Regions from separate parts of the Homo sapiens genome. Here all the other regions are linked to region 3. Evidence: fine-mapped expression QTL. A gene starts in region 3. Each other region holds a variant in brackets. All regions are shown on one strand. Distances are from middle to middle.

Evidence for each region. PIP is the estimated chance that this variant, and not a neighbour inherited with it, causes the effect.
Region 1: its variant is fine-mapped to the expression of ACAP2 in putamen (GTEx, PIP above 0.99). The same link has a PIP of 0.9 or more in amygdala, anterior cingulate cortex, caudate, cerebral cortex, hippocampus and hypothalamus.
Region 2: its variant is fine-mapped to the expression of ACAP2 in whole blood (INTERVAL, PIP above 0.99).

What each region holds. Positions count from the first base shown.
Region 1 is chr3:195,350,986-195,361,593 of GRCh38, forward strand. The region is part of intron 4 of ACAP2 (ArfGAP with coiled-coil, ankyrin repeat and PH domains 2); the gene reads right to left. Among named protein-coding and RNA genes, the nearest start is that of XXYLT1, 85 kb to the left of the region's middle. The variant C/G (reference allele first, on the strand shown) is at 5,163.
Region 2 is chr3:195,272,522-195,283,129 of GRCh38, forward strand. It overlaps ACAP2 (ArfGAP with coiled-coil, ankyrin repeat and PH domains 2), which reads right to left. Exons shown (of 23, transcript NM_012287.6): 23 at 2,224-6,907. The coding sequence ends at 6,807. Among named protein-coding and RNA genes, the nearest start is that of XXYLT1, 6.7 kb to the left of the region's middle. The variant A/G (reference allele first, on the strand shown) is at 5,563.
Region 3 is chr3:195,438,276-195,448,883 of GRCh38, forward strand. ACAP2 (ArfGAP with coiled-coil, ankyrin repeat and PH domains 2) reads right to left here and starts at 4,745. Exons shown (of 23, transcript NM_012287.6): 1 at 4,520-4,745. The coding sequence starts at 4,572. RefSeq lists enhancers at 3,660-3,749, 4,289-4,788 and silencers at 4,200-4,249, 4,270-4,489, 4,610-5,109.

The sequences.
Region 1 (10,608 bases), 87 kb before region 3:
AATAAACTGACTTCATAAAAAAAAAGTTTGATCTTTAAAAAACACTGCTACAAAAATGAAAAAGGCAAGCCAAAGCATGGAAGAAAATATCTGCAAAACATATAACAACTCAGTAAATATGAAGATAAATCCTTTTTTTTTTTTGGGCGGGGGACAGGGTCTTGCTCTGTCGCCCAGGCTGGAGTGCAGTGGTGTGATCTCGGCTCACTGCAACCTCCGCCTCCCAGGTTCAAGTGATTCTCCTGCCTCAGCCTCCCAAGCAGCTGGGATTACAGGGGCATGCCACCACGCCAGTTAATTTTTGTACTTTTAGTAGAGACAGAGTTTCGCCATGTTGCCCAGGATGGTCATGAACTCCTGACCTCAAGTGATCCGCCCGCCTCAGCCTTCCAAAGGGCTGGGATTACAGGCGTGAGTCACCACGCCAGGCCAATAAATCCATATTTTTTCTTTTTCGTGTGTGTGTGTGTGTGTGTGTGTGTGTGTGTGTGTGTGTGTGTGACGGAGTCTTGCTCTGTCACCCTGGAGTGCAGTGGCGTGATGTCAGCTCACTGCAAGCTCCACCTCCCGGGATCACGCCATTCTCCTGCTTCAGCCTCCCCAGCAGTTGGGACCACAGGCGCCCCCCACCACCACGCCCAGCTAATTTTTTGTATTTTTAGTAGACAAAGGGTTTCACTGTGTTAGGCAGGATGGTCTGGATCTCCTGATCCGTGATCCGCCCGCATCGGCCTCCCAAAGTGCTGGGATTACAGGCGTGAGCCACCATGCCCGGCCTAAATCCATTTTTTTAATGAACAAAAGATGACACTTCACCAAAGAAGATCCATAGATGGCAAAGAAACAAAATGCTCAACATCATTACTTATTAATAAGGAAATGCAAATTAAAACCATAAACAATTTTAGAAAGTGACTATGCCAAGTGTTGCTGAGCATGTGGAACCCCTGCACTCTTGTACACTGCTGATGTAAAATAGCACAATCCACTTTGCAAAACAACATTTGTGTAGGTTTTAATTTCTTTACAGATATTAACACTTTAAAGAAATGTAAAACAGTCATGTGCCGCATAATGACATTTTGGTCAAAGACAGGCCGCACATATAACGGTGGTCCCATAAAATTATAGTACTGTATCTGTACTGTACTTTTTCTATGTTTAAATACACAAATATCTACCATTATGTTACAAATGCCTAACGTATTCATTACAGAAACATGCTGTATAGGTTTGCAGCGTAAAAGCAATAGACTACACCACGTAGCCTAGGTGTGTAGGAGGCTACACTGCCTAGGTTTGTGATAAGTACATTCTATGATACTCACACAATGAAGAAATCACCTAACAACACATTTCTCAGAATGTTTCACTGTTGTTAAATGATGCGTGACTGTATTAAAAATTAATATAAACAATAAATAAAAGAAATTAAATATTTCCTTATTTTCTCTTAGCAATGGCTTACAGTCTTCACTTTAAAAATAGTAAACATTTAAGCATAACACTATCTTACAAACTAGCCGTTTTACACCTGGCTATTCACATAAAGAAATAAAACTATATGCCTACACAGATTTTTACATGTATTTTAATAAGCATTTTTATTTGTAATAGCCAAAACCTAAAAACAACCCCAAAGTCCATTGCGGTAGCTTTAAAATATGACAACAAATTCTTTAACACTGCTTTCTTCAAAAGCAGCCCCAATTCTTTGCTCTTTGAGTGTGGGCTAGATGGAGTGACTTACTTCTAGCAAACAGTATCATGAAGAAAGTAACAATGTGTGACTGCTGAGACCAGGTTATAAAAGGCATTGAAGCTTCCAGCCAGATGCAGTGTCTCAGCACTTTGGGAGGCTGAGGCGGGCAGATCACTTGAGGTCAGGAGTTCCAGACCAGCCTGGCCAACATGGTGAAACCCCAACTCTACTAAAAATACCAAAATTAGCTGGGTGTGGTGGCGCACATCTGTAATCCTAGCTACTCAGGAGGCTGAGGCACAAGAATCGCTTCAACCTGGGAGGCGGAAGTTGCAATGAGCCAAGGTCATGCCATTCACTCCAGCCTGGATGACAGAGTGAGACTCTGTCTTTAAAAAAAAAAAAAAAAAAGGCATTGGAGCTTCCTGTTTGCCCATGCTGCTCTTGGATCACTTGTTTTAGCAGTAACCAGATTTCATGTCATAAGGACACTCAAGCATCCCTGCAAAGAGGATCCTTGGTCAGAGGACCAGAGACTGAGGCAATCTCATGAAATTCCTGAGTCAGAGTCACCCAACTAAGCCACTCCCAAATTCCTGGCCCAGAAACTGTAAGATAATACATGCATGTTGTTTCATGCCACTAAGTTTTCAAATAATCTGTTATACAGCAGTAGATAGCTAATATAACCATCCACAGGTAGATGGATTTTAAAACTTGTGATAAATCCATACAATGCAATCGTATTGAGCAATAAAAAGGGAATGAAGGACTGAAACATGCAATATAATTGGACCTCAAAATAACACTGAAGAAACTAGACTACAAAAGTCCATTTACATACAATTCTAGAAAATGCAAACAAACCAATAATGATAGCAGATTCACGACAGACTAGGAATGAGGGAAGAAGGGAGAGAAACAGAAATTACAAAGTGGCAAAGAAAAACTTTTAAAGCATGATTGTTATATTCACTAAATTATTTGTAGCGATTTCATGGAGATGTGTGGATCTCAAAAGTTATCAAATTGTATGCTGTAACTATGCAGTTTATGTCAATTATTCCTTAATAAAGTTGTTAAAAAAACATCATTATATTCCAAAGAGAAAAGCAGAACATTTTTCTCTTTTCTGCTTTTCAACTTTTTTTTAACTTTTAGGTTCAGGGGTGCATGTGCAGGATGTGGAGGTTTGTTACATAGGTAAACGGGTGTCACAGGGATTTGTTATACAGATTATTTCATCACCCAGGTATTACACCTACTATCCATTAGTTATTTTTTCTGATCCTCTCCCTCCTCCTACCCTCCCACTCCAATAAGCCACAGTATGTGTGGTTCCCCTGTATGTGTCCATGTGTTCTCATCATTTAGCTCCCCCACTTATAAATGAGAACATGTGGTATTTGGTTTTCTGTTCCTGTGTTAGTCTGCTAAGGATAATGGCCTCCAGCTCCATCCATGTTCCTGCAAAGGACATGATCTCATTCTTTTTTATGGCTGCATAGTATTCCATAGTGTATATGTACGTATGCATTTTCTTTATCCAGTCTACCACTGATGGGCATTTAGGTTGATTCCACGTCTTTGCTGTTGTGAATAGTGCTGCAATGAACATACACATACATATGTCTTTATAATAGAACTATATTCCTATGGTTATATACCCAGCAATGGTATCTCACCCAGCTGATGTGAGATGGTATATCTCATTGTGGTTTTGATTTGCACTTCTCCAATGATCAGTGATGTTGAGCTTTTTTTATATGAGTGTTAGCCACATGTATGTCTTCTTTTGAGAAATGTCTGTTCATGTCCTTTGCCTGCTTTTTAATGGGGTTGTGTTTTTCTTTATAATTTAAGTTCCTTATAAATTCTGGATATAAGAGCATTATCAGATGAATAGTTTGCAAATATTTTCTCCCGTTCTATAGGTTGTCTGTTTACTCTGCTGACAGTTTCTTTGATTGTGCAGAAACTCTTTAATTAGATCCCATTTGTCAATTTTTGCTTTTGTTGCAGTTGCTCTTAGCAACTTCATCGTGAACTCTTGGCCCATACATATATCCTGGATACTACTGCCTTTAAAATGTAACATTACCAAAATTAAATTTTCTATACACTTGAATAGAATGTCAAGTATTTCATGAAATTAGATGTCAGTAATCTAGACTATTTACTGGCTTTGTTTTGGAGACAAGAGTCTCACTCCATCACGCAGGCTGGAGTGCAATGGCATGATCTCAGCTCACTGTTACCTGTACTTCCCAGGTTCGAGCAATTCTTGCGCCTTAGCCCTCTGAGTAGCTGGGACTACAGGCATGTGCCACCATGCTCAGTTGATTTTTGTATTTTTACCAGAGACGGGGTTTCGCCATGTTGGACAGCCTGATCTCGAACTCCTGACCTCAGCCTCCCAAAGTGCTGGGATTACAGGTGTGAGCCACTGTGCCCAGCCACAATAATGTAGGCTATATACTTTTAATACTTCCATTAGTGTGAAAAGTATGTTGTCAATAAAGCAACAGTTCTGTCTCTGACTTGCCAATTCTCAAGCCACAGCTATCTAACAGCTAATTCTTTTCTTTTTCTTCTTTTTTTTTTTTTTTTTGGTAGTTATTGTTGTTCTTAAAGCCCTTCCTCATGGACAGCTAACTCTTTTCTATATTAAACTGCTACACAGAAATTCCTCAATTCATCTACTGGTATCTAAGTCTCCAGTCTATACTTTCCCAGGAGAAAATTCACACATTTTCCCATCATAAAAAGTTTAAAAGCCACCAACAGAAAAGCTAAGGTTCACTTATATTTCTGGAAATTAACAGTATTATTCCAAGCAACACATGTATTACAAATAATCAAAAATGTCAGTTGACCAATCTGCTCATTATAAAATGAACTTACAAAAGTGCATAGAATAATATATGACTCTTTAAAACCAACAGCTCACACTAAAGTTATTCCTCATACATGTATGACCACAGTTAAAGCAGCACTATCTCTGCTCTCTTCAGGAAAGGAGGAAAGCTAAGACGCACTTCAAAGATCTAGTCCAGAAAGGTTAGTAAAAGAGTAGGCTGCATAACCATAGAGAGCATTATCCCCATTTCCAGTTCTTACAAGTAAGGTGACTTTGGCTCTAAGTATACATTTTGTAGTTTCAAGTCCTTGTGATTTATTTAAATATTATTCAGGGCCAGGCAAAAGACTCCATTGCAACAAAAATTAAAAATAGAAACAAGCTGGAATGGGAGGCAGAGCAATATGGCCAAATAGAAGCCTCCACCGATTGTCCTCCCTGCAGGAACACCAAATCTGACAACCACCTACACAAAAAGCACCTTCATAAGAACCAAAAATCATGTGAGCAATCACAGTACCTTCATATTGCTGAAAGAGGCAGTGAAGAGGATAGAAAAGACAGTCTTGAATTGCTGACCCCAGCCCTCCCCCATGCGCT[C/G]GTAGCAACCACAGGGCACAGAGGAAGAATCTGCGCTGCACACGGGGAAAGAGCACAGCAACTGTGGGACTACAAGCCGGAACGCAGTGCTGCCAATCCCGGCAGAACTCAGCCAATGCCAATGAATGGAGCATTTAGACCAGCCCCAGGGACAGGACAATCACACAGCCTGGAGGTTGGAACTGGAGTTTCTGCAAGCCTCGCCACCACAGGCTAAAGTGCTCTGGGGTCCTAAATAACAGTAAAAGGCAGGCTAGGTCACAAGGACTGTAACTCCTAGGCAAGTTGTAGTGCTGGGCTGGGCTCAGAGCCAGTGGACTTGGAGGTACATGACCTAGTGAGACACCAGCCAATGCGGCTAAGGGAGCGCTTGTGTCACACATCTCCCAATCAAAGGCAGGAAGGCTCCCAGCTCCAAAAGAGATTCCGTCCTTCTCCTTGAGAAGAGGAGAGGAAAGGATAAACAGGACTTTGTTTTGCAACATAAATACCATCTCAGCCACAGTTGAATAAGGCATCAGGCAGAGTCGTGAGGTCCCCATTCTAGGCTCTAACTCCCGGGTGATATTTTTAGACACACCCTGGGCCAGAAGGAACCTGAAGGGAAGGATCAAGTCCAGGAAGAATTCACCACTTGCTGACTAAAGAGCCCTTAGACCCTGAATAATCACCAGCAGCAACCAAGTAACACACACTGTGGGCCTCAGCTAAGACTCAGACATGCAGACTTCAGGTGTGACCCGGCATATTCACAGCTGCGGTGGCTACGAGGAAAGACTCCTTCTGCTTGAGAAAAGGGGAGGGAAAAATAAAGGGGATTTTGTCTTGCAGATTAGGTACCACCTCAAACATAGTTGGGAGGAGCACCAAGTGGGTTCGTAGGGTCCCTGATTCCAGAGAACACTGGACGGCACCTCTGGAACTACCCTAAGCCAGAAGGGAACTCACTGCCCTGAAGGGTGGGTCCCAGGAATGGCGACATTCATGAAAAGCTGAGCCCTTGGGCCTTAAGTGAACAGTGACAACATTGTGGCAGTACTCCCTGTGGGCCTGTGTGGAGGTGGACACAGGGGGTGACTCCACTGCCTGGGGAGAGGAAAGGGATGGGTGGGAAGGACTGTGTCTTTTGATTTCAGTACCAGCTTAAACATAGTTGAATACAGTGCCAGGGAAATTTCTAAGGTTTCCGATTGCAGGCCCTGACTTCCAGGCACTCTGAACCTGTCCGGAGCCTGGAGCCCAGAGGAATTCACCACCCCGAAGGGAAATACACAAGAATGACTAGCTTCAGCCACTCTTGAAATAATGACTATAGCCTGAGTGCCTTAAGAGAACACAGCTTGCAGCCAGGTAATAGTTACAGCAGGACATGGGCAAGACACGGTGCTTTGCTGGCTTCAGATCTGACGAAGTACAGTCCCAACGATGGCGGCGACAGGAGTGCTTGTATCACCCCTCTCCAAGCTGCAGGCAGCTTAGCCAGAGAGAGAGAGAGACTGCACTCATTTTGGAGAAAGTAAGGGAAGAAAACAAGAGTCTCTACCTGGTAATCCAGAGAATTCTTCCAGATGTTATCCAAGACCACAGTATTAGTCCATTCTCACACTGCTATAAAGAACTGCCTGAGACTGGGTAATCTAGAAAGGAAAGAGGTTTAATTGACTCACAGTTCTGCATGGCTGGGGAGGCCTCAGGAAACTTACAATGATGGCAGAAGGCAAAGGGAAAGCAAGGCATCTTTTTCACAAGGCAGCAGAGGGGAGAATGAACGCAGGAGGAATTACCAAACACTTACAAAACCATCAGATCTCATGTAATGCAATCACTATCACCAGAACAGCATGGGGGAAACCACTCCCATGATCCATTTAGCTCCACCTGGTCTCTCCCTTGACACGTGGGGATTATGGGGATTACAATTCAAGATGAGATTTGGGTGGGGACACAAAGCCTAACCATATCAACCACCAAGCTGGTATCTCTATAAGTGTCCAAGAACTACAGCATTACTAGTCTTGGGGTGCCCTCTAATGCAGATACAGCTGTAGGGACCAAAAACCTAGATAATAACAACTAAGTAGGTTTGAATACTTGGATAGCCTTCTCAAGAAGGATGAGTACAAACAAGCCCAGACTGTGAAGCCTACAATAAATATCTAATTCTTCAATGCCTAGATAATCACAAATATCCACTAGCATCAAGACCATTGAAGAAAACATAACCTCATCAAAAGAACTAAATAAGGCACCAGGGGCAAATCGGAGCAATGGAGATATGTGACCTTTCAGACACAGAATTCAAAATAGCTGCTCTGAGGAAACTCAAAGAAATACAAGATAACAGAGAAGAAATTCAGAATCCTATCAGATGAATTTAACAAAGAAATAATTTTTAAAAACCAAGCAGAAATTCTAGAGTTGAAAAATGCACTTGATATTTAAAGAACGTATCAGAGTCTCTTAACAGCAGAACTGATCAAGCAGAAGAAAGAATTCCTGAGACTTATGAGCCCTGTTTAAAAACAGAGAAGAAAAAAGAATAAAAAAGAATGAAGCATCCCTGTAAGATCTAGAAAACGGCCTCAATAGCAAATCTAAGAGTAAGGTAGAAAGAGAGAAATAGAAAGTTTATTCGAAAGGATAGTAACAGAAAATTTCTGAAACTGAGAGAAAGATACAAAACTTCAAGTAAAAGAAGGTTATAGAATACCAAGTAGATTTAACCCATTATTAGTTTAATAATCAAATTCCCAAAGATCAAGGATAAAGAAAGGATTCTAAAAGCAGCACAAGAAAAGAAACAATACAATGGAGCTCCAAAACATCTAGCAGTAAACTTTTCAATGGAAACCTTACAGGCCAGGAGAGAGAGTAGCATGACATATTTAAAGTGCTGGCAAAAAACTTTTTTACTCTAGAATAGCATATGAAGCAAAAATATCCTTCAAACATGAAGGATAATTAAAGATTTTCCCAGACAAACAAAAGTTGATGAATTTCATCAACACCAGACCTGTCCTACAAGAAATGCTACAGGGAGGTTCTTCACTCGGAAAGAAAAGGAGATTAATGAGCAAGAAGAAATCATCTGCAGGTGCAAGGCTCACTGGTGACAGTAAGTAGTACAAAGACAAACACGGAATACTATAACACTGTAATTGTGCTGTGTAAACTACTCCTATCTTAAGTATTAATAGAAAGGTGAAAAGATAAACCAAAAATAATGAGTATACCTTTTCAACAGAGACAATACAATAATATACACAGGGAAACAGTAAAAAGTTACAAAGTGAGGACACAGTGTTAAAGTATTGAGTTTTTGTTTGTTTGTTTGTTTTGAGACAGAGTCTCGCTCTGTCACCCAGGCTGGAGTGCAGTGGCGTGATCTCTGCTCACTGCAAGCTCTGCCTCCGGGGTTCACGCCATTCTCCTGCCTCAGCCTCCCAAGTAGCTGGGACTACAGGCGCCCGCCACCACGCCCGGCTAATTTTTTGTATTTTTAGTAGAGACGGGGCTTCACCGTGTTAGCCAGGATGGTCTCGATCTCCTGCCCTCATGATCCGCCCGCCCCAGCCTCCCAAAGTGCTGGGATTACAGGCGTGAGCCATCGCGCCTGGCCTAAAGTACTGTGTTTTTATTAGTTTTCTTTTTGTTGGCTTGTTTATGCAATCAGTGTTGATTTGCTACCGTAAGATACTATTTGCAAGCCTCATGGTAACCTCCAATCTACAAACATATAATAAATAAGCAAAAAATAAAAAGCAAGAAAAGAAAACATAACACCAGAGAAAATCACCTTCATTAAAAGGAAGACACTATGGAAGAGAAGACCACAAAACAACCAGAAAACAAATAACAACATGGCAGGTGTAAATCCTTACTCATCCATAACATTGAATGTAAATGGACTACACTCTCCAGTCAAAAGACAAAGAGTGGCTGAATGGATAAAGAAACAAGACGCAATAATCTGTTGCTTACAAGAGACACATCTCACCTATAAAGACAAAAACTGAAAATAAAGGAATGGAAAAAGATATTACATGCAAATGGAAACCAAAAGGAACAGAAACAGCTATATTTATATCACACAAAACAGACTTCAAGAAAAAAAAATTTTTAAGAGACAAAGAAGGTCATTATAATGATAAAGGGTTCAATTCAGCAAAAGAACATAACAAGTATAATTATATATGTACCAAACACTGGAGCACCAAGATATATAAAGCAAATATCATTAAAGCTAAAGGGAGAGACAGACCCCAATATAATAACAGCTGGAGACTTCAAAACCCCACTTTCAGCACTGGACAGATCATCCAGACAGAAAATCCACAAGGAAACATCAGACTTAATCTGCACTACAGGCCAGGTGCAGTGGCTCATGCCTGTAATCCCAGTACTTTGGGAGGCCAAGGCGGGCGATCACCTGAGGTCAGGAGTTCGAGACCAGCCTGGCCAACATGGTGAAACCCCATTTCTACTAAAAATACAAAGCTAGCTGGGTGTGGTGGCACGTGCCTGTAATTCCAGCAGTTTGGGAAGCCAAGGCAGGAGAATCACTTGAACCCAGGAGGCAGAGGTTGCAGTGAGTTGGGATCGTGCCACTGCACTCACTCCAGCTTGGGCGACAGAGTGAGACTCCATCTCAAAAAAATAAAAAAAAAAGGAAAAAGAAAAGAAAAAAAAAATCTGTACTATAGACCAAACAGGCCTAATGAATATTTAAGAACATTTCATTGAGGGGGTGTAGAACACACATTTTTCTTCCCAGCACATGAATCATTCTTAAGGACAGACCATATTGCTAGGTCACAAAACAAGTGGTAAGAAACTCAAAAAAAAAAAAAAAAAAAACCTGAAATAATATCAAGGATCTTCTCCGACCACAATGGAATAAAACTGGAAATAATGAGGAATTTTGGAAACTATATAAACACATGGAAATTAAACAATATGCTCCTGAATGACCAGTGGGTGAATGAATAGATTAGGAAAGAAACTGGGCTGGGCACAGTGGCTCAGGCCTATAATCCCCACATTTTGAAAGGCCAAGACAGGCAGATCACTTGAGGCCAGGAGTTTGAGACCAGCCTGGCCAACATGGTGAAACCCTGTCTCTACTAAACAATACAAAAATTAGCCAGGTGTAATGGCATGCACCTGTAATCTCAGCTACTCAGGAGGCTGAGGCATGAAAATCACTTGAACCCAGGAGGCAGAGGTTGCAGTGAGCAGAGATTGTGCCACTGCAATCCAGTCTGGGTGACAGAGCAAGACTCTGTCTCAAAAAAAAAAAGAAAAGAAACTAAAAAATTTATTGAAGCAAATGATAATGGAAACACAACAAACCGAAGCCTATGTATGGGATATAGTAAAAGCAGTATTAAGAGGAAAGTTTATAGCTAAGAGTGCCTACATCAAAAACAAAATACCTTCAAATAAA
Region 2 (10,608 bases), 170 kb before region 3:
CTGTAATCCTAGCACTTTGGGAGGCCGAGGAGGGCAGATCACCTTAGGCCAGGAGTTCGAGACCAGCCTGCCCAACATGGCGAAACCCCGTCTCTACTAAAAATACAAAAAATTAGCCAGACATGGTGGCGGGCGCCTGTAATCCCAGCTACTCAGGAGGCTGAGGCAGAAGAATCGCTTGAACCTGGGAGGTGGAGGTTGCAGTGAGCCGAGATCATAACACTGCACTCCAGCCTGGGCGACAAGAGCAAAACTCTGTCTCAAAAAAAAAAAAAAAGTAGGCAGTGTGGTGGCGGACACCTGCAATTCCAGCTACTCGAGAGGCTGAGGCAAGAGAATCGCTTGAACCTAGGAGGCAGAGGATGCAGTGAGCCGAGATCATAACACTGCACTCCAGCCTGGGCGACAAGAGCAAAACCCTGTCTCAAAAAAAAAAAAAAAGTAGGCAGTGTGGTGGCGGACACCTGCAATTCCAGCTACTCGAGAGGCTGAGGCAAGAGAATCGCTTGAACCTAGGAGGCAGAGGATGCAGTGAGCCGAGATTGTGCCTCTGTACTCTAGCCTGGCGAAAGAGAGCGAGACCCTGTCTCAAAAAACAAACATAAAAATAAAGCAAAGCTAGGTTCATGATGGCAAAAAATCAGAATCAAATGGTCATCAATAAAGTGGTTAAAGCTAAAATAATGCAGTCATTAAAAGTGATGTTTTCAACAAACTGCAGGTGGAAATTTAAAAAACTAACAAATGGGTGAGGTGGCTCATACCCGTACTCCAAGCTATGTGGGAGACTGAGGTGGGAGGATCACTTGAGCTCAGGGGTCCAAGGCTGCAGTGAGCTACGATCGCCACAGGACTCCAGCCTGGATGACAGTGCGAGACCCCAATTCCAAAAAAAAAATAGTAATGGTAACAAATGGAAAAAAAAACCTACAGAGACTAAGAAACATATTCACCAACTGCAACGTATGGAACTTATGTGAATTCTGATTTGCACGATCTATTTTAAAAATCGTATTTGAGAAACCAATTTGAATATTGATTATGTAGTTTTACAGTTTAAGAAGTGTTACGATTTTTTAAAGTCCTCAACTTTTAGATGTACATACGGAATGATTTGCTGGTGAAAGGTCTAGGATCTGGTTCCAAAAAGTCCAGGAAAGGGGAAAAATGGGTAGGAGAACAAATATAAGCCATGAGCTTATAGCTATTGATTTTCTCTACCTGTACATGCTTGAAATTTCCCATAAAGTTCTCCCCATCTATTAAGTGAAAGAAGTGGGTAACTGTATGATCCCATTATATAAATGTATGAATACACACACCCAAAGGTCTAGAAGGGTATACACAAAAAAGTAACAGTATCTCCCTCAGTGCTATCCAGTAGAACTTCCTGTGACAATGTATATATTCTACAATCTCCCCTGTTCAAAACAATAGTCACTAGCCACATGGGGCTATAAAGTTCTTAAAATGTAGCAGTACGACTGAGGAAATGAACTCTTTGTCTAATTCCAATTAAGTAGCCACATGTAGCTAGTGAGTTCCATTTTGGACAGCACAAGATAATGGAATTGTGGATGATTCTCTTGCTTCTTCTTAACATTTCTCCACAAGCAAAAAGCTTTGTGTTTGCAATAATTGAAAAATTAAACTGTTTTCACTTAAAATATTTATAGACTATTGATGTGGGTTCTCCACAGAACTATTCTGAAAATGAAATGAAGCTGAATAAAGCAAGTTATATTGAAAAGTTTATGTGTCTGCTTTCAATTAGCTTTTTTTTTTTTAAAGCAAATGCAGGTGATACACTTCCAGTTTGGTTTTTTCAACCTTCCATTCCTTCAGTCCCAATTCACTGACAAACGTGTGTGTGTCTGTTTACTAAAAGGATAAAATGGGAATGTGCTGCATAGATTAGGAACATTAATGTCAATCATAATGGAAAAAACTTAGAGCAAGCCCCTCCCCCCACCCCCCAAAAAAAACCTTTTATCTTTTTGCCAATGAATTAGGGGCTATAACAGCTCTGTGAACAAAGAGAATTATATACTTAAAAGATCCAAATGGATTTCTTGATTGAAGTAATCAGCAAATAGGATGAATGTGGATTTGAAAGGGCTGGGAAGAAATACCTTAAAAATAATAGTACCTTAAAAATAACTGCTGTTGACAGATATGTTCACAGTGTATTTCACAAGAAAATGTAAATCACCATGAAAGAACTAAGCCAGAGGTGAGATCTTTATTGACTTATTGTAATTTTTTGGCATACAAATTACTTAAGTATATTTACAATTCTTACATAATGTACATTTTAGAAGATAATGTACTTTGCTCCATTTACAATGACAAACTACTGTAAAACTACATTCATGAATTAGATACAAATCCTCTACATACTAATAAAAAGTAAATGGACTGTTGGTTATACATTCTTTAAAATATACCTTTTCACAGGTAGCAAGAAATAGTACATGTAATAAGTCTTTATGACTGGAATGATCCAGAAATATCACAAAGCATGAGTAAACACATATATAAAAGTAGCTCATCATTTCCAAAAGTTAACCTTTAGCCTTTGTGTAAAATAAATGGTGCCAACAATCTTTATAATGTAGCAAGCTTTCCCTGTTTAATATCCAAAAAATGGAGGGTGGGGAGGTTGAAGAAAAATAAGAAAAGTTAGCAAATAAGATAGTGAAAAGACCAATGCAGAGAAAAGTTTATGTAATCAAATCTTGCTTTGTCTCCACATTATCACATTTTAAGTGGATAAATTTATGTAAACAGAAAAAGATGTCCACAAAACCATATCTGTAGATGTCATTTGGAAGCATCAAGAAATTGATAAGTATGTGGTGAATTAAAATTACTTTTATAATGTTTTGCTTTCATTAATGTTTGTTATTGCAAAAATGTAAGATTTCCTACAATTTTGTCTTCAAATCCCAATCTAGCCCTTCAAACTTTTATCCAGGTTCTCCAGAATATTTGGAGTCTTTGTTATCAAAGCACAAGGAAAGCTGGCATTCATTATCAGACTTCGCTGCTTTACAATGATTTCAAATCATTTCATGATACAAATAAAGTGCCTCTGACTGGTGGTCAGTCAGACCTGGGTAATGGTGCCAATTCTGCCACCAGCTAGCAAATCAAGTGACCCTGCTCTGTAAAACAAAAGGAGCACCCTAGGATCAAAAAAGTAGACAACTTTGGAGCTTAGATTAAGATCTCAGAAATCCTACCATGAGAATCCAGTGAGATAAAGCAATGCCAAGTACACTGTAAGTAGCAAAACAGTATACAAAGGGATGCTTCTATATTTTCACCTTGTTTCATTACACTCATTTTAATTGTGAGGAGCCCTGAATCCAAAAAGGGTAGTGACGACTAGTCCAGTGCTCCTTCCACCGTATCATGCGGTTCTAAAGTCATTCTGGACATACAATCTACAAAAATACATCATTTTTCCAGCTCATGTCCATGATCCAAAGTGATATTATACACAAGTGTTATCTGACAATATAAGAATGATCTGGGAATGTCTGTTCAAAACGGTAGTAAATTTAGTCTTAAACACAATTTCATTTACTGCGACCATACTTAACATGCATAAAATATTTTTAAAATACAAACTTAAATTGGCCAGATTCTGAATGTGTACTTTTTTTCTTTTTCAAAATGCACTCATGAAGAACCAAAGTTCATATTCCAAATTAAATCTGTATGTCTGGAAAAGTAACCAATCAAAGTTCATTAAAATATACAGTGAAAACCGGTATAAATTAGGCAAACACCATAATCTAATGAATATCAGGAAATTTCTGAGTTTCTAAGGATTGTATTAAAGGTAACTTTTTAAAACCTTAGAAATCTTAAGCACATAAATGTTATAATGAAGCATTTGCAAATGACTGCTCAATTACTTTTATTCTAGCTCTAACATGAAATTGCATTTTATTAACTCTTCATAGTGCTGCTATTCTTATTTTGATATTAATCTAACTTTCAAGTTAGTAAGCTAATGATAATGAGCTAACAGATTAATAATAAGGAATAAGAAACTAATAATAGCAGATAAGTTATGGAAAGAAAATAAAAGGCCAATCACATTGACTAATGAAGCCCAAAAGCATGATTAACTAAGATTTCTTATAATGCACTGAATAATTCACAGCATAACATAATTCAGATTTGTTACATACCATATAAAAGCTATTAGTTGACATGGCTAAATTCACCTAAGAGCCAACCTACCTTGTAACTATTAATTTAATTTAAAGCCTTGCTGTTTACTCCATCATTTCTGCCAAATGTAGTCCAAATTGGGTCTCAGCATATTCAAGAAATCAAGCCACAGAAATGTGTACTTGTATTGCTAGGCTCCCTGCAATATTAAAGATTTTGCTTTCTCTGAAGATATTCTGAACCATGATCATCTTTAAGGCACTTCAAATACATTTCTGACCACTAAATTTAAGTAGATACTAATTAATTACTGCCATATTAACAATTCATCACGTAAGCCACAGGAGGCAAGAGTCTCATAAGGAATTGCCTTCACAACCACAGAGATTCCAGAGGTGATCTGAATGAAACACGCACCAATGGCCAGATCCAAAAGGAAAACTACCTAGACTTCCTCAGATAAAAGTCAGGATCTTTAGGAATTAAAACAGGAAGGGACACTATAAAGGAAAAGTGAGGTTTTTTCTTTTTCTTTAACGTACTTCTTTTCTTTGAGCTTCTTGGTCAAATAATTTCAAGGTACATGCTAATAAAAACTACAAATCAGATTTTTGCCTTTAGTGAAGGTGCCTAAAAAGCCAGATGATCTATGACTTTGAGGTGAAACAGCAAAGATAAAGATTTAATGTTCCTGTTATTGTTATAATTAAATACAATGCTGTGGAAGTTAGCATTTCCTCAGAAGTAATTCACAAATATATTTTTATCCTTATCTAACATACAGTGACCATTACTAAATAAGCATTACATGCATGCAGTTTGGCCAAATTATGGAACCTTTTCTGTAATGTGAACTTATTTCAATATAATTCCTGCTTGGCTAGATTCTGATTTGATGTTTAATCAACTTATAAAACCCTAGTGACTGGGAAATGTTAGAAAATTTATCTATAATTGGATCATAAAGTTTTTATATATTTTAAAACCTCTTATTTAGAAAGAGTATCAATAATATCATTTACATATAATTTCTAAAAGAAGAATAGACTTAATTGTTGACAACAATGGGAAGGAATCAAAAGGCAAATTAGGCTGGGTGCGGTGGCTCACGCCTGTAATCCCAGCACTCTGGGAGGCTAAAGCAGGCTGATCACCTGAGGTCAGGAGTTCGAGACCAACCTGGCCAAAATGGTGAAACCCGTCTTTACTAAAAATATAGAAATTAGCTCGGAATGGTGGCGGGTGCCTGTAGTCCCAGCTACTCGGGAGGCTGAGGCAGGAGAATTGCTTGAACCCAAGAGGAGGAGGCTGCAGTGAGCTGAGATCGTGCCACTGCACTCCAGCCTGGGTGACACAGCAAGACGCCATCTCGGG[A/G]AAAAAAAAAAAAAAAAGCAAATTAATTATTTTATACTTTAAGACATTTTCAAAGATGGAATCAGACTAATTTGTAGCATATAAATGGTAATGTTTATCCATAATATTTTGGAATTCAGGGGTCTGTGAATCATGTAACCGAATACTAAAGCTATATACACGATATAATTTAAAAGAATGTACACTGTGTACAAGTACACAAAATAGATGTAGAAAAAATAAACAGCAATTTATTGCTATATATTTTAGTATTAACTAAGAATAAGTGGGGTTCTTTTTCTCCTTTGTACAGAGATTTTTCTTTCACTAGGAGCAACAGCAAAACTATCTTTAAAAGGACAAATTTCAAATATAAAAATGGCCTACATGATTTTATAAATTGATTTTTCCTTTAAAGTTTTGATGAAGGCATAATTTTGTGACATTCAAGTAACCTTTAAAACATACTTTTATTCCATCGATACATCTGTCAAGGTTTTGGGGAATCAACCCAACAATGAAGAACTACACATTTTGAACTGGGGTTTTTTTTTGTGATTAAAAAAAAAAAAGAGCTTCTTTTTGCTGCATAAAATAAATCTAAAGGACTGAATTATGGTCTACCTGTACAGCCATTATACATACATACATTAAAGTACTGGACAATAACCTGTCACCTAAGAAGTATAACCGACCGCATTTATGAACAAACGGGGAAAACACATTCTCTAGTTCTAATAAATCATATATTATGTGTATGAAAGCTAGGTTACCAAAAACACATCAACACACACACCTATTTCTGAACCACCAAAAAGCCTCAGGGAAGCTAAAGAAAACACATATTCTTGAGGCAGGCAGGACAGTTGGCTTCCACTTGATGAAGACATGCTTGACTGAGTGATCCTGGGCAAGATGCATGGAGGAAAAAAATCAATGCCACCACCCATTGGCAAAAGAATCACTTTTGTCTAACCTCCTATCATCTTGTAACCTAGAGATGGCCTAAATCTAGACTGAACTTCTGTCTACAGAAATAGCCCTTTAAATAGGCTTTTTTAATAAAAGAGGTCCTAAACTAGGTTCCTCTCCTACTACTAGATAACTATGTTTTAATTTATAAATATATGAATGGGTACCTCTTTTCCAAGCCATTCAATATCTACCAAAATTAAGTAGAATTAAAGCAGTAAAAAAATTGTGATTTTTTAGCTGTATACATTAGGGGGTCACCAGATTTCATATTTTCCCATTTTTAAAAAAATTCAGAATTTCTGTGAATCTTGCTGGAAACGATTTAGTTTCTCTGGATTATTGGATGCCATTTGGGAAAAATCACGAAATATGTCCTGATAAGTTTCATCACCTGCATGAAATAAAATAAAGACACTTTAAACATTTACACAAGTATTAATCAAACAACATTCATATTTATTACTAGTACTATTTTATAATTCATTACATTAAAATTTTGTTCAGATGAGCATTTTTGGAAGAAAAGGGGCAACTAAAAATAAATGCTGAAAAATTATGCAATGAAAGAAAAAAAAAAACTATACCTGAAAAAAGCACCTCAGATGCAGCCACAGAAGAAAGCTCAGAGTTAGAAAAGAGCAAAGATGCAAGTGTTTTAAAGCAATGTAAAGAAATACGTTTATTAACACACGGGGGGGAAAAGTCATTCTAAATGAGGTGGAGTAAATGAGACCTTCTTTAAATAAATATTTCCCTTGATAAAGGCCAAAAGAAATGACTAAAACCAAATACTAATGTTTTGGATGGATGCAAGTTATTAACAAGACAAACTGATAATCAAGACAAACTGATAATCAGATAGGGAAAAATAATACTATCTTTTAATTAAAAGCAATTTGAAAAAGTAATTTTTTACTCAAACTTTAATGCGTAATTAAAACTAATGCACCTAATCCACTGCTTCCTAAACTCATAAAATAAAAATCTAGCTGGGTGCAGTGCCTCACGCCTATAACCCCAACACTTTGGGAAGCTGGGTGGGGGGGTTGGGGGGAGAATTGGTTGAGGCCAGGAGTTCAAGACCAGTCTGGGCAACATAGCGAGACTACATCTCTACAAAAATTAACAACAAAATCCTAGAAAATGGCTTTAAGGCCAGGTGTGGTGGCTCATGCCTGTAACCCCAGCACTTTGGGAGGCTGAGGCGGGCAGATCACCTGAGGTCAGGAGTTTGAGACCGCCCGGCCAACATGATGAAACCCTGTCTCTACTAAAAATACAAAAAGTAACCAGGCGTGGTGGTGGGCACCTGTAATCCCAGCTACTCGGGAGGCTGAGGCAGGAGAATCGCTTGAACCCGGGAGGTGGAGGTTGCAGTGAGCTGAGATCGCACCACTGCACTCCAGCCTGGGCAACAGAGCGAGACTCTGTTTCAATAAAAAATAAAAAAAAGAAAATGGCTTTAAAATCAGTTTTGCATTTAAAAGTTGGGTTTGTTTTTGTTTTACTGCAGGTCATATGAGCAAGAATGCTATGACAAAATGCAAATAAATACCAAGGACATCTGTTAAATTAGAAAAATAAACGTGTATATGTACAAATATGTTTACCGAGAAATAGATTATAGATACTGATATTATAGCTGACTGAATACCATTTTTCTTGTCATGAGAAACTAAATATACACACACATACAGATCAATCCCTCAGACGAAGGAATCTTATTTTCAAGATAAATCGTTGATCATGAATGCTTCCTGCTAAACATTAGCCTTATACAAATGCTTGGCATAATTCTGTTCTCAAGATTTCAACCATAAAATACTGTTTTTGATTATTATTGTAACATTTTAAAATTATCTCCTATAAGATACCTTGCATCCACCTTATAACACACTCATTGCTACAGATGTTGTTAATAGTGCAGTAAGTTTTGTCAGTTTTTAAAAAGTGAGATTTTTGAAGCAAGAGATGTCATACCAAAAGCTAGAGAATTAGAAAAAAGTTGAGGATAGGAGTAAAGATCTAGTAAAAAGGTCTAACAGCATAAGCCAAGATTTTGAATTAAAAAAATGTTAATACTTTTGGCCCGGCCGGGTGGCTCACGCCTCTAATCCCAGCACTTTGAGAGGCCGAGACGGGCGGATCACGAGGTCAGGAGATGGAGACCATCCTGGCTAACACGGTGAAACCCCGTCTCTATTAAAAATACAAAAAATTAGCCGGGCGTGGTGGTGGGCGCCTGTAGTCCCAGCTACTCGGGAGGCCAAGGCATGAGAATGGTGTGAACCCGGGAGGCAGAGCTTGCAGTGAGCCAAGATCGCGCCACTGCACTCCAGCCTGGGCAACAGAGCGAGACTCCGCCTCAAAAAAAGAAAAAAAAGGAAAAAAAATCTAATACTTTCTAGTCACTTTTTGTATTTAGTCTAGGTAAAAAGCAACTATTAACATCTCTATATAGTTTTCATTTAGCCCTGGAAATTTATTCCCGACCTGAATCAATCAATTAAACCTCATCAGTCTACTTTAAAAAGAAAAAAACAGTAAGAAGAGATTATTAACAGGTGGCTGAGAGTAACATCTAACTCATATTGACATGACTAAAATAAAAGGTTGATACGTTGGAACAGCTGGTAAGACAATCCAATTATACCCATGGTTTTGTAAAAGTTCACTTCCACATCAAAAGACAAACATTGCTATTCTCATTTTAACCATTCTAAAAGATAGAAAATAAATAGAGCAACATTAAATAGCAACAAACCATATAAAATATTTTTTCTAATTTGCAGATGTTGAATTAAAATATGTAAAATATTTATTGTAAACATTATAAATATTTTTAAAAGACTATTTAAACTGGATAGTCTGGAATTTTCCTTTCCAAGAAAGTGTAAAGTGCAGAGTATAATACAAAAATACCACAAAGATTTTACCATTCAACACTAGAAGTAACTTAAAAGGCACACATTATACATTCAAGAAGAAATAGGAAGAAGGGTCTAGCAGACGTTAATACCAAATAGTCTACAGGTAGCACCAGATGAGCACTGTTAAGTATTACAACAGTACAATGGCAATATATGGCTTCTACTATTAGCAATGCATATTTTGTATAACAAGCTATGGAACTTTTTAAATGGTTTCTCCGGTTTTGTTTTTAAATCATCTAGTACCTATTACACAAGTATATTTTAGTAGAACCATTGTACCATGCAAAACAAATTATAAGACTCAAATGCTTCCTTGAATGAAAGTGTTGGTGCTATAATAATCATTGGTTTCACTGACTGAATACATTTAAAAAGTGTTAATATAATACAAAAGGAAGTTGCCACCTTCACATACACACAAAACTTTTTGTTAACATTTAGTTTCTAACAAAACATTAATTAATGCACTGTTAATGTACTACCTTTCTTAGATCTCAAAATGTGTTGTCAAAAGCAAATGTTACAAGAACAATAGTGACCAAGATATTTAATACAGCTAACACAAATTGAACTTCAATGTGATTTTTTAATATTTAAATATAATTTTGATTACTTAGAATTTTTCCCAAGGCAAATATAATTTGTCTACATTGGAACACATAAACAACAACCCAGAATATGCTGCCATGGAATGTTCCCAGAAATACATTTAACAGTTTATTATAAATGGTAAACAACTCATCACTCAACATTTATAATACTAAGCATATTCTTTAAACTTAACCACATTCTATTTCCCCTCAGACAGTTAACTTTTCTATGTGCCTGGACAGCTCTAAGTTTTTAAAATGCAGACTGCTGTGTTTCCACTGACAGTTTAAATTCACTTTTAATTTTTGGTATTCAGAATATCTACCACAACAGCAGTTATGATGATTCAAGAGTTTGCTAATTTTGCTCTTGAAATGTACTCCCCTCACCTCACAGGGACGGCAGCACATGAGACCCACCCCAGGTCATCCTATGCACGACCTTACCCCTTCTGGGTGGGTAACAGCTTACTTTCATAATTACTTAGATCAGCGATTCCCAACTTGTGCTTGCTACATACTCACATAACCAGTAGCGGGTCCCTAAAGCAGTGATGATTCTCAACTGG
Region 3 (10,608 bases):
CCTCAGCCTCCCAAAGTGCTAGGATTACAGGTTTGAGCCACCACACCCAGTCAGGATTCCTGTATTTTGGTTCATAATAAAATTACTTTATAATTCCATTCTACTGCTTCTGAGATTAAAAAAAAAAAAAATTTCCCCTCAGCCCTTACCCACTGTATTAACAGGCAGTTGCTAAAAGTTTATTATAAAGATGGAAGGCAAAGGAAGGAGACAAGATTGGCACCAATCCAGACTTAATAGCAACACATAACTGAGGTGTATTTAGTAGTCACATTTTATTCCAATGTCTTTCGCCCATTAAAACCTTTCACCTGACTGGGCATGGTGACTCATACCTGTAATCCCAGCTACTCAGGAGGCTGCGGCAGGAGAATCACCTGAGTCCAGGAGTTGGAGAACAGCCTGGATAACAAGTAAGACTCTGTCTCTCAAACATAATTCACCCACAAACACCCTTTTTAAAAAAAAAGTTATTCTAAGTTACTGAACAAGAATCGTATCTAGCCGGGCATGGTGGCTTATGCCTGTAATCCCAGCACTTTGGGAGGCTGAGGCGGGCGGATCACCTGAGGTCAGGAGTTCGAGACCAGCCTGGCTAACATGGTGAAACTCCGTTTCTACTAAAAATACAAAAAATTAGCCAGGCGTGGAGGTGCACGCCTATAATCCCAGTTACTCGGGAGGCTGAGGCAGGAGAACTGCTTGAACCCAAGAGCCGGAGGGTGCAGTGAGCCGACATCGTGCCATTGCACTCCAGCTTGGGCAACAAGAGCAGAACTCTATCTCAAAAAAAAAAAGAATCATATCTGAAATAGAATCTAAAAATGAAAAACCTGCAGGATGGTGTATGATAGACATTGTTAAAGGATAAAAATAAATTATCAGATAAAAACTAAAGCATACCAAGGCTAAGGCCTTTTTTTTTTTTTTTTTAAGAGAGAGAGAGAGAGTCTAGCTCTGTTGCCCAGGCTGGAGTGCAGAGGTGTGAACATAACTCACTGCAGCCTTGACCTCCTGCCTCAGCTTCCCATGTAGCTGGAATCACAGATGCACGCCACCATGCCCAACTAATTTTTTTATTTTTGTAGAGACGGTGTCTCACTTTGTTGCCCAGGCTGGTCTCAAACTCCTGGCCTCAAGCGATCCTCTTGTCTCAGCCTTCCAAACTGCTGGGATTACAGGCATGAACCACTGCACCTGGCCACAATATTTTTATACTTGAACACTGCTGACAAAAATCTTTCATAATTCAGAAAGATGTTTATTTATTCAATTTATTTATTCTACTTTTTATTTCAAATAGATATTCACTTCCTAAGTAAAACAGAATACATTTTGGGTTTTTTTGTTTTTTTTGTTTTTTTTGTTTTTGAGACAGTCTCGCTCTGTTGCCCAGGCTGGAGTACAGTGGCACAACCTCAGCTCACTACAGCCTCTGCCTCCCAGGTTCAAGCAGTTCTCATGCCTCAGTCTCCCAAGTAGCTGGGATTACAGGTGCACACTACCACACCCGGCTAATTTTTGTATTTTTAGTAGAGATGGGGTTTTACCATGTTGGCCAGGCTGGTGTCAAACTCCTGACCTTAAGTGATCCGCCGTCCTCCACCTCCCAAAGTGCTGGGATTACAGATGTGAGCCACAGTGTTCAGCCCAAGAGTATGTTTAAGTAAAAGAAAAGCAGTACTTTTACGGAGGTTTTGTAAAATTTTAAAGACCTACTACATGCAACTACATACAATTAAGGGCCCAAACAAATTCCAACTTCAACATATTTTGGCCAAAATGCAAAATTTCCACTCAAAAAAAAGTATACTTAGGCACTTTACATTCCTGTAGATTTTTAGATGAACAAGGTTTTTAGATTTTAGATGAACAAGATTTTGACCTTTAAGCTGATTTTAAACTGGTATTTAAAAAACCAAAAAGGGAACCCAAAATTATACAACGAAATGTGCCCTCCAATCCAAAACAAAAAAAAAATGTTCACTGGGATGTAAAAGTAACCATTGACTATTCAAATTACAAAAGACAATGTTGCAAATGCAACATCCTTCTCCCTATTTCAACCAGTCCCCTTGTATTCTCCTCATTGATTTAACAGGAAAATAGATGTTTAAAGCTTGAACAGTGGTGAAATTTTCATCAGCAAGATGTGCCTTTTGCATTAATTCTACAGCACCAAGACAGTTATGTGCACACACTAGACTTAAATGCCACAAGATTCATTTATGAATAAAGACACGTATTAATTTAAAGACAGCCCAATAGATCAGGACACAAGTGCAGCTGCCTTACTACCAAAAAACAAGCCCAGGCCTCACAAGCTTTTTATTTTGATACAAGTTTCACTATCACTCAACATACACAATACTCTCAAAAGTAAAGCTCTTCTTATACATACAACATGTGAATGAAGACTTCTCAAATATTCTTTTCAAATGCTATACAGATCCTCATAGTAATAGGATTATGGAAAAACTATAAAAAATTAAGAATATGAATAATGAAACTTCTATTTCTCGGCAGTCTTCCCTCTATTGCAAATCTAATTTGTCCCCAAAATGTATATAAGATGTTGAAGTTATTGAAATTTTGGCATCTCTTCCCAATTTGCAGCTAACAATAATTGGAATATGGGAAACAACTCCTGAAAACCTGTAATATTTTAATTAACATAGAATTTATGTTACAATCAAGTTTAACAAAAGTTCACTATAATATTCCCTACAACTTAATCAGTATGTTGCCCTCTTATTTTATATTCAATGATTTCTTTATTTCAAAAACAAAGACATCACATGGTTTGTGACCAACCCCAGTAGCTAGAAGTATTTCCAAATCACTTCTCTCAACTTAAAAAAAAAAAAAAATTAATGTGAAACAAAGGGAGTTCAAAGCTACATCTTCTAAGGGAAAAATGCTGTGATTATTTCACTTAAAAATAAATAGCTGAGTCATAGTAACAAAATTTCACAAAAAGCTGAACTTTCTAAGGTGCACTTTAAAAATTACTCCACTTGCCATGCTGTCCTGGAAACCAACCTGCACGCCTGTCCTAGGAAATCTATTTGTGTCTCTTGAGTCCTTCAATAATGCAGAACATAAAAGTTTCAAAAATGAATCGCAACAACAGCTATCAAAGGAAGTGGGTTTTTTTAAATAATAGCCCTAGGCTCCAATAAAATTAATACCCAAAAATCATCAAAGGGCAAACGCAAAAAGCGTTCTTAAATTTTCTCTAAGTAGCAGTTCCTTAGTTTTACAATTCTTTTCTTTTTCGCTGAAAGGAGAATAAGAAATCCAATTAACAGTGTTAAGGATGAGAACAGTTAGTTCCCAGGCAGAGGATGCAATTTACAATCCAGGCTTGGCCCAGACATTAGCGGGCACACACACGCCAGTGCTCAGAGGAAGCTTCAAGAAATGTCACTATCTAACGGAAGTGTTAAGGCCTTATATTTGTAAGGACTATGACCAGCCCTGTAAATAAATACACTGTAAAACGCAACCTAGAAAAACTCCATTGTCCAAAACAACTCAAGACTTTCCTACTATCCTCAAAACAGAAAGAACCTGTGTCCTGGACGGCCTCAGGACGACCGCCTCTCACATAGAAAGAAGGGCAACCCATGTGAATCGGAGTGCCCCCATGTCAACTCTGTGACAGATCCACTGGGAGCATCCGACTGTGATCCGGGCCCTCCTGGGCAGAGGCTGCTGGAAGAGGAACACACAGGCAATCTTCACGGCCCTCCTACTTCCGTTCTCAAAACAGAAATGCACTTTTCTGCTAGTCCTCCGCCCTCAGCCCGGTACCTCTCGACAGCTGTGCCCCCTTCAACGAGCTTAAGTGGAAAGAAAAGCAGGTAGTCACCAACTAGGGTCCACGGAATGCGGTTGATCACAGCGCTTCCCCCCGCGATTCCCGCACGCATCCACCGCGGGCGCCCTCCGGAGAGTCGCTCTGGCCGGGGGCACCGCGAAGCAGAAGTCGGCGTCCCAGTTCGCCCCCTACTCTCTCCTCCCCGGGGAAGGGGGGCAGAAAAGCGCAAAGAGGAACTAAATGAACTGCAAGAGGATGCCCTGAAAGCTCCCTCAAAGAGGGGGTGGGGAGGGGGTGGAAACCAAGAAGGGGCGGAAGGAAGGGGGAAGGAAGAGCAGCCAGAGGAGGAAGGGGGCGAGAGCGAGCGCCCGCGAAGGGGACGGGACTTCGGGAGCGCGGCTGCACCCCATTTCCCCCAGCGGGAGAGGGTGCGCCGGCCTTCGGGGCGCTCCGCCCCGGCAGAGGGCAAGGAAAGAAATGAGAGGCGACGTCCCCGTCCCCGCCACTTCGTCGCCCCTCGGGAGGGCTCGGTGGGGACTGCAGTGCCCTCGCAGGGTGGGAAACGGCGGCAACAGCCGCTCGCCCCGTCGGAAGGAGCGGACGGCGGGGCCTCCTCCGGGTGCGCGGGCCCGGCTTTCACGCCCCCAGCGCCGGGAAGGCAGCTCCGCGGTGACGCCGGGCGGCCGTGCCGGTTACCTGAAGCGGGGCGAGTCCTTCAGACACTCCTCGAAATCCACAGTCATCTTCATCCTGCCTCCGCCTCGCAGGCGGCGCTGGCAAAGCCGAGGGGGCCGCGGGAGCGGCCGCGCTGGGACGCAGACGGCTACGGCGGGCGCACGGCCGCGACTAGCGTTGCGCGGAGCTGCGAAGGGCGCCTCGCCCGCTGGTCATAGCAGCCGCGAAGACGGCGACGACTAGTCAGGCCCCAGTCCCGCCCCTCTTCCTCCCGCCCCAAGTAGAGCGCTGGCCGCAGGGAAACGGCCGGGGAGTGACAGCAGCGGCCAGCCAGCCACGAACCTGGCGGCCAAGGGGCGGGGCATCCGGCAGCACCGCCTGCGGGCGCCCGGGCAACGGGTCTGAGCGACGGCAACCCGAGCCAATGAGCAGCGCGACCGTGGGCACCTCCTTGCCACAACCGCCCCCGAGGGCCAACCGGGATGCGCGGGCGTCGCTAGGCGGGACGCACCGGTTGCTGGGAGGCCGGCAGCTGAGGTTCCTTGGGAAGGAAGTCACGTGGCTGCGGCCGCGCTTCCCTCCGAGCCCCCGCCTCTTCTCCTGCTCCCCGAGCCCCGCCCTGCTGAGCTGCCAGCCCAGAGGAGCAGTCTCCTGCAGGTCTGAGGAAGGAAATTTGCTTTTCAAAGCAGATTGGCAGAAATCTGAAGAGGTTAGAGGCAGAAATTATAAAAGGAAGAGATAGGCTAAGCCACCTATTCCTTTCAGTTTAGAGAAACTGAGGCCAGAAGAGGAGCGAGGATAACTTTAGTGATAAAATCCATCTTTCATGTATTTGTTCCATAGCTTCATAATCTGGAAATTGCTCCCATGTACATCTTCTCATATAGCCAGAGACCACTTCCTGAAGGAGCTGCCGTTTGGGTTGGACATAGAAAGATTTAGGCAGGTATGGGAGGTAGGGTGCTTCGTGTGGAGGAACTCCTCTCAAAACTGCCGAAAGCATTCCCCCTCACTGACACTTTGCTCCTGGTGGTTTTCACTGTTCTGCCATGGTGGGGTTCTGAAGACCAGGCTCATCGTACTCACCTTGCAACACCTGCCCCTCTAATCCACACTTTTTCTAGAAGCACTTTAAGATACTTATCATCTGATCCTCACGGCAGGTATTTACCATACTCCTTCATTTTAAGATGCCATTGATTGTAAAAAGTACAAAGATGTCTTATATGTAATGAGTAATTTTTAAGCCAACCTAAAAAACACGGGCGTATCTATAAAAATGAATATACAGGGTGTTCTAACAGCATAGTGGCTCTGAGTGAGAATCTGGAGGCAAACTTCCTGGATTTAGGTCCCAGCTTTCTCACTTTAAAATGAACATAACACACAGATCTGATGAAGTTGTCCGGTTAACACAGTGCCACATATCGATCATTCAGTAAATGTTGGCTATTTTAATTGTACCATTTGCCTCTTCAGTACTATAATCAAAGGGCTTAAGTCTAAGTTCTCTCACTTTCACTGTCTGAAGTTTTTGTTTGTCTCAAAAACAATCAAACAATTTCGTTCCGTTCCCCAGGCTGGTCTCAAACTCATGGCCTCAAGTGATCCTTCTGTCTCAGCCTCCCAAAATGCTGAGATTACAGGTGTGAGCCACACACCCAGCCTTCTAAAGTCTTAATATAACTTTCTGACCGTCTGGCTAAGTATAGCGTGATGACATACTGTTTTTCGTAACCCATCAAGAGATATCTTGATCTCTTTAGCATCTTTAGAAATTAACAGTATAGACAGGGCATGGTGGCTCACACCTGTAATCCCAGCACTTTGGGAGGCCGAGGTGAGCAGATTCCTTGCTCCAGGAGTTCCAGACCAGCCTGGGCAACATGGTGAAATCCTGTCTCTACAACTCTACAAAAATATACAAAAAATTAGCCAGGCACATGCCTATAGTCCCAGTTACTCATGAGGCTGAGGTGGAAGGGTCACTTAAGCCTAGGAAGTCAAGACTGCAGTGAGCCATGATTGTGCCACTGCACTCCAGCCTGGGTAGACAGAGCAAAACACTGTATCAAAAGAAAAAAAAAGGAAAAAGGAAAATTAACAGTATAATTCTGAGGCATTTCAGAGAATATAGAAGCATTATATTCATTTATTCTTTGCTTATAAACTTGATTTCTTTTTTAATTGTGTATTCCTGGAAACCACACAGCTTTTCTTGATAGCTAAAAACAGACTATTGACTGTTAAATGTTCAGGGTCCTCAAGCACATTAGTGGTCAGGCCAACCTTCCCTAACATTGTAACTTCAATGTCAAATTTACCAAGACAGTTGGCAATCTCTACTATATTTGGTTGCGTTCCTGATGTGTGACAGCTAATCTGCATATACAATAACTTATTATTTTAATACTTAATCACAGTGTAGCCTTTTAGAAGATACCTAAAGTGACACTTTGGGGTTCAAATTAATATTCAACTGCATGGCACCACAAAGGCAAATAACTAAGCTAATTACCAAGTGAACATCTTTCTGTGGATGGCTAAATTTGCATATACCCAGTTAGTGATAACACTGTCACAATTTTTCTTCCTTGCCCTGTGATAAAGCAAGCATTTGGGGGTGTCAATTCTAAGATAGGTCCTAAATAAAGAAACATTAAAGTGGGATGGGGTGGGAGCAGTGGGTCTTAGAATAAAAGAAATACAATATTATTATCCTCATCTTTTTTTTTTTTTTTGAGAAGAAGTTTTGCTCTACCACCCAGGCTGGAGTGCAGTGGCACAATCTTGGCTCACTGCAACCTCTGCCTCCCAGGTTCAAGTGATTCTCCTGTCTCAGCCTCCCGAGTAGTTGGGATTACAAGCATGCACCACCACACCTGGCTAATTTTTGTATTTTTATATAATAATGGAAACCAAGGTCCCAACATATGAAAATAAATTACCAGGTGACTCAGGCCAAACACAGGCTGCCTGATGCCAGATCCGAACTACTAACTGTCCTCCCTCCCCTTAAGAATTCTGCCTTTGCAGTTGTAACTCTGTCTGCCCGTGTAGCAATCTCCCTTTCATCTTCTCTTTAAAACACCACTCTTATGCCACCCCCTCAGGAAGCTTTCTTGGCCGAAATACAAACCTCTCTATTCAACACACAGTAAAAGTTCCTTACTAGGCCCAGTCTGCACTCTAAAAGAATATAAAGTACCAAACTTTAAATGTCTTCCAAATTTCTTCTCCCCAAACTTCTCAGTCCCTCTCTACAAACCCTCTGGAACCCTGGACACCCATAGTTCTTCATAGAAAGCTGCTGATTTCCTCTGAGAACATTGTTGACCATACATCCTCTTGAGCAGAGGTTGTTCAATCTCTCCTCCCTGGTACTCCTTGGTCAGGATACATAGTCAGCAAAAGGCTTACACTGTCTTACTTTCCTTGTTGCTGTTATCCAGCAATTTCTAGTAACTCCCTGCCTTAGCCTGGCTAATTGCGTTGCAAATTATCTCAAGAAAAGGAAATTACAATGAGGGTGACTGTGGGCACTACTGGAACTGACAAGGGCAGAAACTCAGGCAACTCTTAGGACTGGTTTTCTCTCTTGTCATCTGCATCCTCTCTCTTTCCTACTTGCCCAACCCCATCAACTTTCCTTTCTGCTTTCCTCTAGGTTCTGTTCCCCTGTGAACCTGGTTTGCATACAATCTATCATTGCTACTGATTCCTCTAGAGGCTCCCAGTGGGTAATATAAAACAATGAAACTTTCCAGGTGTGAGCAGCATGCGGTGGTGGAGGCTATGACGAACAGAAAGCATGTGCCCTGTGTCCTTCTCAGCTCCAGTCAGTTCCTGCCATACCAGACCTCAGATTTAATGAGAGACGCCAAACAGCCAGATTTTCATGTGAAATCTCCCTGTTTTCAAATATTGACAAGCCTTTCAAAATATTACAGAACATTGCACAGGTTATAAAAATAAGTTTCAGGGCCACTCTGCAACCTCTGCTAGATATTTCTTGACAATTCTTTTTTTTTTTTTCTCCTTTTTTCTGAGATGGAGTTTCGCTCTTGTTGCCCAGGCTGGAGTGCAATGGCACAATCTCAGCTCACTGCAACCTCCGCCTCCCGGGTTCAAGAGATTCTCCTGTCTCCGCCTCCTGAGTAGCTGGGATTACAAGCTCATGCCACTATGCCCGGTTAATTTTTGTATTTTTAGTAGAGACAGGGTTTAGCCATGTTGGCCAAGCTGGTCTCAAACTCCTGACCTCAAGAGATCCGCCCACCTCGGCCTCCCAAAGTGCTGGAATTACAGGCATGAGCCACTGCGCCTGGCTGACAATTCTTTATACAGCCTTTCAACTTCGGCTCCTGGTGTTAATTGCTTAAATCTGTTTCCCAACTCACAGATCCCAGGAGACAATTACATTAGCCCAGCTCATCTTTTCATATCAGTCCACACAGGTAGTGGGTCCCTGGCAAGCCAAGAGAGGGATGGAATCACTCAACCTAATCATTTCTGCAGGGATGGGGGCTGCATGATGGCTGACTAGTAGTCAAGGCAATTTCCCTGTAAGAAAATGTTGATAGCTCGGCCCCATAAAACACAGCTAGTAAACACTCACGTTCATCCAGGACTTCGGCTCCTGACTCACAGTCCTTCATCCCAACTTCCACCATCAACTAAGGTGACATCAACATTCACTCATTTTTCTTTCATTCAATAATATTCATTGAGCATTTATTCTGGCCAGACCTTATAATAGGCTCTGAGAGGCTGGGCACGGTGGCTCACGCCTGTAATCCTAGCATTTTGGGAGGCCAAGGCGGGCAGATCACTTGTGGTCAGGAGTTCAAAACCAGTCTGGCCAACATGGTGAAACCCCATCTCTACTAAAACTACAAAAATTAGCCAGGTGTGGTGGCACTGTGCCTGTAATCCCAGCTACTTGGGAGGGCTGAGGCAGGAGAATTGCTTGAACCAGGGAGGCGGAGGTTGCAGTGAGCTGAGATCATGCTATTGCACTCCAGCCTGGATGACAAGAGGGAAACTCCATCTCAAAAAAAAAAAAAAAAAAAGGCCAGATGCGGTTGCTCACGCCTGTAATCTCAGCACTTTGGGAGGCCAAGGCGGGTGGATCACCTGAGGCCAGGAGTTTAAGACCAGCCTGACCAACATGGTGAAACCCTGTCTCTACTAAAAATACAAAATTAGCCAGGTGTGGTGGCGCATGTCTTTAATCCCAGGTACTTGGGAGGCTGAGGCAGGAGAATCGCTTGAACCTGGGAGGTGGGGGTTGCAGTGAGCCGAGATCGCACCATTGCACTCCAGCATGGGCAACAGAGTGAGACGCTGTCTCTAAATAAATAAATAAATAAATAGACTGTGAGACTTATAGGTGAGATAAATAATCTTTTCCCCCTACAACTCTCAGACTATGGTAAGTTCTGTGCCAGCAGTCTTTGAGTATTTACAGTGGCCTACTGTAATCTGATAGTCATTTCTCCTAAGGAAGGAAATTAGTGTTCTCATACCTCCATAGATATGAAGAATCTTAAAAAAGTAAGATCTAAGAAAAGGTGAGGAATGTCTTTCAAAGGGTCAAAGGACTGTTAGTCACAAGGAACTATTTTGACTGAAGCACAGAAGCAAGAGAAACACATGGTCTTCAAGCATGGTAAATCGAGAATATGGCTTTAGAAAAGAAGAAATGAATTTCTGATACATACACTATCTGTATCAGAAAGGATCGTACACCATCAATATAGACATTACAAAGAACCTTGTATGCCATGCTAAGGACTGTGTATATTAAAGCGAAGGAAAGCCACTGGAAGAATTTAAGCCTGGGAGTGACATAATCTTATTTGCATCTTAATGGAGAGTGGGACATTTTCAACTGATGCAATTGCAAGCAAGAGATGTTTAAGAAATAAAATTGAGGCCTGGGCGCGGTTACTCACGCCTGTAATCACAGCACTTTGGGAGGCCGAGGCGGGTGGATCACAAGGTCAGGAGATGGAGACCATCCTGGCTAACACGGTGAAACCCCTTCTCTACTAAAAATACAAAAAATTAGCCAGGCGTGGTGGCGGGCGCCTGTAGTCCCAGCTACT